Linked DNA regions of Homo sapiens. The protein of the gene in region 1 interacts with the protein of each later gene in a pairwise test. Each region holds a gene or a part of one and is shown in the gene's direction. Other genes may lie near its edges.

Evidence for each region.
Region 2: the proteins of PLEKHA5 (region 1) and CEP350 interact in a two-hybrid assay, tested with the Homo sapiens proteins (one large-scale study listed by BioGRID and IntAct).
Region 3: the proteins of PLEKHA5 (region 1) and MTCL2 interact in a two-hybrid assay, tested with the Homo sapiens proteins (one large-scale study listed by BioGRID and IntAct).

What each region holds. Positions count from the first base shown.
Region 1 is NC_000012.12:19,342,715-19,346,369, forward strand, and holds part of PLEKHA5 (pleckstrin homology domain-containing family A member 5), read left to right. Parts: intron 1-608; coding exon 609-720; intron 721-3,127; coding exon 3,128-3,174; intron 3,175-3,655.
Region 2 is NC_000001.11:180,094,217-180,097,871, forward strand, and holds part of CEP350 (centrosome-associated protein 350), read left to right. Parts: coding exon 1-400; intron 401-1,306; coding exon 1,307-1,714; intron 1,715-1,821; coding exon 1,822-1,968; intron 1,969-3,655. UniProt on the Homo sapiens protein: Plays an essential role in centriole growth by stabilizing a procentriolar seed composed of at least, SASS6 and CPAP. Required for anchoring microtubules to the centrosomes and for the integrity of the microtubule network.
Region 3 is NC_000020.11:36,856,991-36,860,645, reverse strand, and holds part of MTCL2 (microtubule cross-linking factor 2), read left to right. Parts: intron 1-772; exon of another isoform or gene 773-1,072; intron 1,073-3,655. UniProt on the Homo sapiens protein: Microtubule-associated factor that enables integration of the centrosomal and Golgi-associated microtubules on the Golgi membrane, supporting directional migration. Preferentially acts on the perinuclear microtubules accumulated around the Golgi.

The sequences.
Region 1 (3,655 bases):
TGCAGTGAACTGAGAGCTTGCCACTGCACTCCAGCCTGGGCGACAGAGCAAGACTCTGTCTCAAAAAAAAATAAAAATAAAAAAATACATTTAAACTCTGTCAGTCAAAATTCATCTTGATATATTTTGTTAGTTGTACCTTTGTTGTTGTTTTTATGTTCTAGAACCTAGGAAGTTAGTACACCTTCCATTTCTCACCCATTCCCCAATGCCCTGCCACATCTCCCCCTCCCAGAAATTATTTTTTCTTTTGGGGTTTGTTTCTGCTCTGTTTTCATTCTCTCTGTTTGTATTTTCCATTTTGGGTCCCTTTTAATCAATATGCCTTCCTGGTATCATAAATAATGTAAGACAAAGCTTATTGGAAAGATTTAAAATAGTATATTTAAGTATGAAAATTAAATATTTTTCTTGCTCTGCTCAGTCTTTTATATTTGCCACTGGACTTGCAAAATTGGGAGAGTCACATCAATCATATTAAATATTCGTAACACTTAATTCACTGCAATTTGCATTTTTAGATGTAATTTATATAATTAATATATAATCATTTAACTTCAGTGAATGATTTTTTTTCTTATATATGGTCTATCCATTTTTACTGATAGACGGAATCAGCAGGAATTCAGCGTGCACAGATTCAGAAAGAACTTTGGCGAATTCAGGATGTCATGGAAGGGCTGAGTAAACATAAGCAGCAAAGAGGTACTACAGAAATAGGTAAATTAGCTTTGCATTTTATTTTGTGACTGACCACAGTATTACAGTCATGTGTCGCTTGGTGACAGATTACATTCTGAGAAATGCATTGTTAGGTGATTGTGTTGTACAATCAGAGTGTACTTAAACAAATCTAGTTGTATGGCCTACTACACACCTAGGCTATGTGGTATATAGCTTATTGCTCCCAGGTTGCAAACCTGCACAGCATGTGACTGTACTGAATACTGTAGACAGTTGTAACACAATGTTATTTGTATATCTAAACATAGAAAAGGTAATGTGTTACACTCTGACATGAGGGCAACAACTAGGCAATAGATATTTCTCAGCTCTGGCTGGGCACAGTGGCTCACACCTGTAATCCCAGCATTTTGGGAGGCTGAGGTGGGCAGATCACCTGAGGTCAGGAGTTCAAGACCAGCTTGGCCAACGTGGTGAAACCCTGTCTCTACTAAAAATACAAAAAAAGCCAGGCATGGTGGCGCATGCCTGTAGTCCCAAATACTCAGGAAGCTTAGACAGGAGAATCGCTTGAACCCGGGAGGTGGAGGTTGCAGTGAGCCAAGATCATGCCAGTGTGCTCCAGCATGGGCAGCAGAGGGAAACTGTCCCAAAAAAAAAAAAAAAAATTTTCTCAGCTGCATTATAATCTTATGGGACCACTGTCGTATATGTAGTCTGTTGCTGACCAAAACATTGGTATGTGGCACATGACTGAATGTCTAAATGGAATGACATATATAATTGAGTTTCTTTTGTTATTTTAATGCATTTTTCTGAACAGGCACTCTTAACATTGAATCAGAGCACAGGTTTATAAAGTAAAAAGTGAAAGCTCTGTCAACCATACCTAAACAAAAATAATTATTGTCTTGTGTGTATAATTATAAATATCCACAATGTTTACACTTTAGAAGTTTTATCCCCACAACAAGAACTGGGATCATCCTATATCTATTTTTCAATAATTTGCTTTTTTCTCCATAACAATGCAGTGTAAGAATCCATTGTATAAGGGAACTGTAATATATTTATCCATTTCCATATTGATGGATAATGTATGTTGTTTCCAGAGTTTTTTATGAATGCTGTCATAAGCCATGCCATAGTGAACATTATTAATACATACAACTAAACACATATGTTAGTACTTAATGGATTTTAAAAGGTGAGAAATAAGCACATGTTTTCCATTTGGATAACTGCGGCCAAAATGCCCTCCTGAAGGATTATTTCACATTATGTTAATACCAGTAATGTTTGAGAAAACCCATTTCCCCATACTCTTGTTTAAATATTTGTTGCCTTTTTAATGTAATTGCTTTCCAATTCTGAAAACAATAAGTGAATGATTAGAAACTGAAGACTTCATTTAAAATATGTGAAATCGGCCAGGCGTGGTTGCTCACGCCTGTAATCCCAGCACTTTGGGAGGCCGAGGCAGGCGGATCACTTGAGGTCAGGAGTTCAAGACCAACCTGGCCAACATGACAAAACCCCGGCTCTACTGAAAAAAAAAAAAAAAAGTACAAAAATTGGCCAGGTGTGGTGGTACGCACCTGTGGTCCCAGCTACTTGGAAGTCTGAGGCAAGAGAATCTCTTGAACCCGGGAGGCAGAGATCACGCCACTGCACTCCAACCTGGGCAACAGAGTGAAAAACAATAAAGAAATAAAAATAAGCCGGGCGCAGTGGCTCATGCCTGTAATCCGAGCACTTTGGGAGGCCAAGGCGGGCAGATCACCTGAGGTCAGGAGTTCGAGACCAGGCTGGCCAACTTGTTGAGACCCCATCTCTACTAAAAATACAAAAATTAGCCATGCATGGTGGCGTGCACCTATAGTCCCAGCTGCTCGGGAGGCTGAGGCAGAAGAATTGCTTGAACCTGGGACGCAGAGGTTGCAGTGAGCCGAGATCTTGCCACTGCACTCCAGCCTGGGCGACAGAGCGAAACTCTGTCTCAAAAAAAAATAAAAATAAAAAATAAAAATAAATAAAAATAAAAATAAATTTAAAAAAAAATACATGAAATTGTTCTTTTTTTGGCTGGACGCCATGGCTCACGCCTGTAATCCCAGCACTTTGGGAGGCCGAGGCAGGTGGATCACTTGAGGTTAGGAGTTCAAGACCAGCCTGACCAACACGGTGAAACCCCATCTCTACTAAAAATAAAAAAAATCAGTTGGGCGTGGTGGCGCACGCCTGTAGTCCCAGCTACGAGAGGCTGAGGCACAAGAATTGCTTGAACCCAGGAGGCGGAGGTTGCAGTGAGCTGAGATCACGCCACTACACTCCAGCTTGGGCAAACAGCAAGACTTCATTTCAAAAAAACAAAAGAAATTGTTCTTTTTTTATAGTATTAGAAAGATATGTTTAATATAGTTACGTTTTCTAATATTCCCAGGTATGATAGGATCAAAGCCTTTCTCAACAGTTAAGTACAAAAATGAGGTAAGTTTGGATTGTTTTTCTAATTATAAATTACTTTTAATGCTTAAGAGATGAATTAGAAGTAATTGTCTTCTCTAATCTTAATAACAAAAATATTTTTTAAATATATTGAACAGATATTGTTTTAGTCTTGAAATTTTATTGGATCAGTAATTTGGTGCTTCTAATATGTGATTTTTCTTCCCTTTTTTAATGCAAAAAAATGGAATCTCTGCTTTTTATCTGTTAGAATTTTAACGTTGTCATACTTTTTCTAATCTAAGTAATGTTTGAATACTTATCATTGTTTCTTATACTATGTAAAATTTATAGGATGATCGATAGATAAGTTGGTTGTATGTCATGCGTAGCATAAAGAAATTACAACTACAAAGAGATACTGTCAACCTAACCAAAAGAATCTATTATTTTGAATTTCGTATAAAAACCAAAGAGGTAACTTTTTTTTTTCCTCTCTTAAAAATTGGGGGGCCAGGTGCAG
Region 2 (3,655 bases), on another chromosome or scaffold:
AGACAACCTATATGCTGAAGCTTCAGAAAAGCTTTGTACACCACTTCTGGATCTTTTAACAAGAGAAAAAAACCAACTGGAAGCCCAGCTGAAGTCATCACTAAATGAGGAAAAAAAGTCAAAACAACAACTGGAAAAAATCAGCTTACTGACAGACAGTTTACTAAAAGTCTTTGTAAAGGACACAGTCAATCAACTACAACAAATCAAAAAAACCAGGGATGAGAAAATCCAGCTTAGCAATCAGGAGCTTCTTGGTGATGACCAAAAGAAAGTAACACCCCAAGACCTATCCCAAAATGTTGAGGAACAGTCGCCAAGTATTTCAGGTTGCTTCTTAAGTTCTGAATTGGAAGATGAAAAAGAAGAGATTTCCTCTCCAGATATGTGTCCCAGACCGGTGAGTATTTCGTCTAGAAAAAGTATCAGTATACCTTTTGACACTTTTAACAAGGCAACTTACCTTGCCTATATAGTACATTTTAATTCTGTGACTCCTGATAGGTTTTTTTTCCCTTGACGTGTTGTTTATTAGAGAAGGATCACTGTACTGGTTTTTAAAGGCCTTGTAGCTGTTTTTCCTGGCTGAAGTGTAATTGTCCTCTATTATGTCATGAGTAGTCAATATAGGGTTGTCACAAGCACTGGCAGGTTTTGGGGAACTAAAACATCCATTTAAACTGCTGAGTTGACAACCCCTGTACTGTCCATAGATTACATCTCCTTCCAGATTCACTGAACAAATTCGTTCCATGGAGCTTTCCAGTGGCTCACCACCCAATTCTTTTTTGCCTGTGAAATTGTTTACATATCTACTCAGTCATGGTTGGCCTGCAGAGGTTAGCAGTTGTGATGTTGATTCTGGTAAAATGAAATAGATCCACTATGACATGCACTCAGACCATCAGCTTGTTTATGTTGCCCATGGACAGTTGAGCAAAAGTAATGACTTTGAGTAACTTGAGCCAGATGGTCACCAGAGGTGAGAAATTTTATATCCCATTTCCATATCCCATAGACAGTTCTTTAGAAACAGAATAATGATAATACAAAAAGCGGGGAGAGCCCTAATCAATAAACATTTTATAAAAATTCAGTTATATGCAAGGTTTATATAAGTAGAATTGAGGGAACAGGATAACTTTTTCTTAGATTGTTTATTAGTAGCCACCATATTGTTTTTTATTCTGCTTACTTATAGAGAAATATTAGATATATAAATAATGCATTTACTCTGTCTTTTTTTAAAAAAAAATGATATGAGGTCCCTAAATGGTGCTCTGTTTGAATGGTTCCATTTCTATAGGAGAGCCCAGTATTTGGTGCCAGTGGGCAGGAAGAACTTGCTAAGAGACTTGCTGAACTTGAACTCAGCCGGGAGTTCCTGAGCGCGTTAGGAGATGATCAAGACTGGTTTGATGAAGACTTTGGTTTGAGCTCTTCTCACAAGATCCAAAAAAATAAGGCAGAAGAAACCATTGTACCTCTAATGGCAGAACCTAAAAGAGTAACCCAACAACCATGTGAAACATTATTGGCAGTCCCCCATACTGCAGAAGAAGTAGAGATTCTTGTACATAATGCAGCAGAAGAACTTTGGAAATGGAAAGAATTAGGCCACGATCTTCATAGCATCAGTATTCCTACAAAACTGCTTGGCTGTGCCAGTAAAGGTCTAGATATAGAAAGCACTAGTAAAAGGGTCTACAAACAGGTAGGTGAAATAAAAGGATAATTTTAGTTTTTAAACTTTTCTCCCATTGTCTGAAATTTGGATTCTTAGCCATTTTGTTTTGTTTTGTTTTGTTTTTCTCTATCAAGGCGGTTTTTGATTTAACAAAAGAGATTTTTGAGGAAATATTTGCTGAGGATCCCAACTTAAATCAACCTGTCTGGATGAAGCCATGTAGAATCAACTCTAGTTATTTCCGACGAGTGAAAAATCCAAATAACCTTGATGAAATCAAGGTAAACTGCAAACTATAAAGTGTCTTCTTTTTTGACTTGCTGTTCATTTACACATATCTGTAAATGTTGTAAAAGCAGGTGCTCTTCTGTATGATTAACCTTTGTGTCTTCAGGACCTGTTCCATAGTGGGTATTCAATAAAGATTTGTTGACTTACTGAATCCATGAACAGTGGAGGGATTGGAATGAGTGAAAGGGCTGAATCCTCAAGTTTGTGCAAAAAAAAAAAAAAATTCTTTTACCAGTCATTTTCTCTATATACATAATTATAATATTTAAGAAAAATTAGGAAATACCTAGGGAGATAAATTATTGCAACTAATAGGAGTTTTAGGTAAGTTTTGGGGGCTTTAGAGATAGGTATAATGTTCTAAAAGTACATATGAATACGTGTCATATATATGTCTTTTCAATATGCCAGCCCTGGACACATAGGTGTTAACTTCTTTATCTTTGACTTTGGAGGTTTCAAATTGGTAATGTGGTTTTGAACTATGTAGGATAGTAATGTGATACGTAAAAATATTTATTTTGTTATCTAAGAAACCTTTGTAAACCTTTGTCCAGAAGCTACAAGGACTATGAACTTTAAAGTCACATTGCTGGCAATCTGCTCTGCCTAGTCACATGTTTCTTTACGGCAAAGGTTATATTTCCAGAGCAGTGATTCTCAACTTTTAATGTGCATGTGAATGATCTGAGGATCTTGTTGAAATGGAGATTCTGATTTAGTAGGTCTGGAGTAGGACCTGAAATTCTGCATTTCCAACAAGCTCTCAAGTCATGCTGGTCCTGCTGGTCCTGCTGGTCCTGCTGGTCCCAGGACCACGCTGAGTAGCAAAGCTTTAAACTTGTATTTCCCAAACTTATTTGATCACAGAAAGCCTTTAAAAATATTTTATACTTATAGAACACCAACAGATATTTATGAGATGGGATGTATGCTTACCTCAGGGGTTGGCAAACTATGGCCCATAAGCCAAATCCAGGCCCCTGTATGTTTTTATAAATAAAGTTTTGTTGGACCACAGCCATACCTAGTTGTTTACATGTTACAACTACATGTAACTACAACAGTGGAATTGAATAGTTGTGACAAAGACCACATGGCCCGCAAAGCCTAAAATATTTACAGTCTGATTTTTTACAGAAAAAATTGGCCATCCCCTGGCTTAAAGTAACTAGCTTTTTAAAAACACATTGTATACTCCATTCCTTCTACCCTTTCACAATTGAAAATGCTTGAATGCTATGTGTGTCTGTGAACAGGTAGGGAGTGATGGAATTTCCGGGCACGTTGGTACTTTGAGAATCTTTCCAGGTGATTCTGATTCATAAATGTGTCCCTTCCCCTGTTAAGAACATTGTTTTTTTAACAGAACAACCATAAAAGTAACAAAATAAATTATTAATAACATTAAGTTGAGGTAAGACAAGATATATAATATATACCAACAATCAAACTACATGCATCAATATAGCATACAATAAATGCCCACTAATTTTAATATTGACATAACATTTTGTAAAGTTTTTAAGGGTGATAGTTCAAATATTGTTAGTAGTAAAATTATTATGCTTCTCATACTGAAGTGTTGATATTTTTTAATTTAACATATTTGAGTTTTGGTGCTTCAAAATAAACTATCCCAAAGTCTTTTGCTTTTCTCACATTACATTGTCCCCA
Region 3 (3,655 bases), on another chromosome or scaffold:
GTAGTAAACCTCTGATCACTGCTCTTGTCAGAGGCACGGGACATGTTTCCATGTGCACCCAGCCTGTTCTCTTGTGGATTCTGTGAGGGCAGAATAGATCCTCTTCATCACCCAAGGCAGGCTGGGCTCTTTCTCCTGGCCCCTCATTGGTTCATTCGGCAGCTGTTTATTTAGAACCTGCCGTGTGCTAGGGCAGATCTGGGATACAGCTGTGGACAAGGGAGGATGAGGTGTCTGTTTTCATAGAGCTTTTGGGGAGACCAGAATTAAACAATAGTCATACAAGAAATCACAACACAGATCATAATGAGGGTAAAGGGGACAGTTTGCCAGGAGCACACGAAGGTGGGGGCTGGGGTGCACAGGGAGGCTGAGGGCTGCAGGATGCCGTGGAGCCAACTGAGTGAGGGTCTGGAGTAAGAAGATTTCAGGCTAAGGGAAATTGGAATGCTCGTTGAGTTCAAGAACAGCGCTAAGGCCAGAGAGGGGAAGGAGTGTGGGTAAGAGAGGAGAGCAAGGCCAGCCCATGCCACTTCTCACTGTGTACATTTGGGTTAGTCCCTTAACTTCTCTGTATATCTGTTTATCCCAGCCGCCAGCCTCACAGAGGCAGGGTCAAAATCCAGAGACTAAATGTGGACCATAAATAGAGGGGTTATTACTGGAGGTGTTGTGTTGTTTATTCCACAGATGGGAAAACTGTGGCCAGAGTGGGTCCCAGAGCAGGGTCGCTAGGCTGCCAGGGCTTGGAGTAAGCATGTGTTAGACTCTTGATGTGTTTTCTGCCTTTCTGGACTACTTTGCCTCTAAGATGCAGAAACTGAGTACAAGGGAAAGGACTCCAAATCCCCAGTATGTCCCCTGCAGGAGCAGAGTTGAAGGAGGTCCCACCAGGTCTGGTGGGTGGCCCTGCTCAGGCTTACCTCCCCCTTGTAGGGGTCACTGGGAACTGTCAACTGCGAAGGACTGTGATCTCCAGTCTGGTATGGTCTGCTCTGGGGTCCAAGTGAGGAAAGCATAAATCGGGCAACTCTCTCCCAGTGAGAAGATAGAAGGAGCTTCTACAGAGAAGGTAGTGAGCTCACTGTCACTTTAATTATTCAGAGAGAGGCGGGATGACCTTGCATGCTTGGATAAAGATAGAGGGTTTGTGGAATGATTGCTTGAGAAGGGTTCAGAGGGAGATTGATGTGGTGGCTGCAGTTGAGCTGCCTGACCTTGGGTCCCTTCTAGCCAAGGAAGTCTGAAGGTTATTAACTACTGAGGTGCCAGGATTCTAAGATGCAGCTTTAGCTGCCGAGCAGACACGTCACCTGAGACCTTCAAAGACCCGGTGATCTGAGGTCTTCCAGCCTTTCATCACCACTAACCATTAAGCACGTACCATGTGGCCAGAACATGTAGGAACCCACTGGGTGTGGATGGAGGAATCTGAGAGTTGGAGTCTGAAGACCTGACTTTGAAACCTGACTCTCCCGTTTACTGTGTGGCCATGGGCAAGTTACCTGGCTTCTCTGAGCTGCTTTTTTTCTCATCTGTATAATAAAGGTGATGGGGCCTGGCGCAGTGACTCACGCCTGTAATCCCAGCACTTTGGGAGGCCAAGGCGGGCGGATCACCTAAGGTCAGGAGTTCGAAACCAGTCTGGCCAACGTGGCGAAACCCCATCTCTACTAAAAATACAAAAATTACCCAGGCGTGGTCGTGGGCGCCTGTAATCCCAGCTACTCAGGAGGCTGAGGCAGGAGAATCACTTGACCCTGGGAGGCAGAAGTTGCAGTGATCCGAGATGGCGCCACTGCACTCTAGCCTGGGCAACAGAGTGAAACTCTTGTCTCAAAAAAAAATAAGTAAAGGTGATGGAACCTGCCTGGACAACCTCATACGATGGTCATCAGGAATCAGGGAAGTGTGAATAGACAAGAAAACATTTTGCAAGCAGTGAACCCAAGTCGCCTGAGGAATTGTTATTATTCATAGCCAATAGGCAGACAGGATGTCTGTGTCTTCATTCTTGGAGGAACTGGGAGAATGCAGGAGGGTGGATTTCCTTAGTTTTAGAATGTTAATACATCAGTAGCTGCCCCAGGGAGAACGGAAAGGTGTGATCACCTTCCCTGCCGTGTGTGTGTGTGTGTGTGTGTGTGTGTGTGTGTGTGTGTGTGTGTGTGTGTGTGTGTGTTTTCCCTCCTTGGTGATTCTAGATGTGAGTGAAGTGCAGCCAGTGTGTGTGTGTGTGTGTGTGTGTGTGTTTTCCCTCCTTGGTGATTCTAGATGTGAGTGAAGTGCAGCCAGTGTGTGTGTGTGTGTGTGTGTGTGTGTGTGTGTGTGTGTTTTCCCTCCTTGGTGATTCTAGATGTGAGTGAAGTGCAGCCAGTCTAGATGTCAGCTCAGAAGGGCCTGGAGGAAGCACCTAATCCATCCCCACTTGCCATTTTACAGATCAGTAAATGGAGGCTCTAAATTACATAGCCAGGATTCCAACCCAGGTTTGTCTAACTCTGGGCCTGTTCTTTCTGCAGTGTGACCAGAGCAGTGAGCTTTTGGTTGTTAACTAGCGTGTCTAGGCTGAGACACATTTGGTGAGAGGAATCCTGTCATGGGCCAGGCTCTAGGCTAAGGCATGCTGGGGGCCCGGAGCCTGGGGGAGGTGGGGGTTAGTGGAGGATGTTTGTGTGTGCATGTGTGTGAGATTGTTCCTTCTGTAACATGGGGGACAAGCACGCCCGCCCAGGGCCGTGAGGACCCTTTTCAATGTGAGGACGCAGATGGAGTGCACAGTGAGTGTTAGTGTGTCCCAGTCATTGCCGATCCCTTATCCGTTCCTCCAGGCATTCATTCATTCATTCAACACATATTTCCCCAGTGGCTCCTGGGTACCAGGCCCTGTGCTGGGTGTCTGGACCCAGTGGCCACGTAGTAGGCTTCTGCATGTAGCTCTTCTCTTCTTGGCTCCCAGGAGCTACAGGGGGAGGACTCTAGTCTGTCACTGGGTGGAGGAGAGGAGGTCACCACAGTCAGCAAAGCTCTTGGCTGCTCCTTACCCTGAGTCCCAGCCGCAGCCTCCTTGGGGCTGAGCCTGTGTCCCTGGGCATACTCTGTCTTGCACATACAAATGCACATATACTGTTCACAGCTCAAGCTCAGAGACACACAGCCACTTGCACACATCTCACAGACCCATCCAGTGACTCGCTGGTGTTGGATGCTTTCAGAAGCACGCCTCCAGACAGATTAGAGAGGATACTCACTCAGAGAAGTGCACAAACCCATGCAGCCACACAACTCCCATTCTATCACACGCACACATCACCAAACAGACACAACGGAGGCTCAGACCCTGCTGCAACCCCCACGTCAGAAACACATTCTCATATACACATCTTACACCCCTAGACACACCCGGATATGTCCCAGAGACAGACTGACATCCTGCAGACACACTCAGACTTATCAGAAGTACACATGTAGGCGGAGACACAAACCCACACAGACGTTATACACACACACTAGCATCCACAGAAGTCTGCACATCTACCCTTGCCAGGCTGGCCCAGGCACAAGCTCACCACCCGGGTACCTCCCCTGCCTCTTCTACAAAGAGAGCAGCAGAGACTTGCACACCTACCCGAGGCTTACAGACACCCACCAAGGG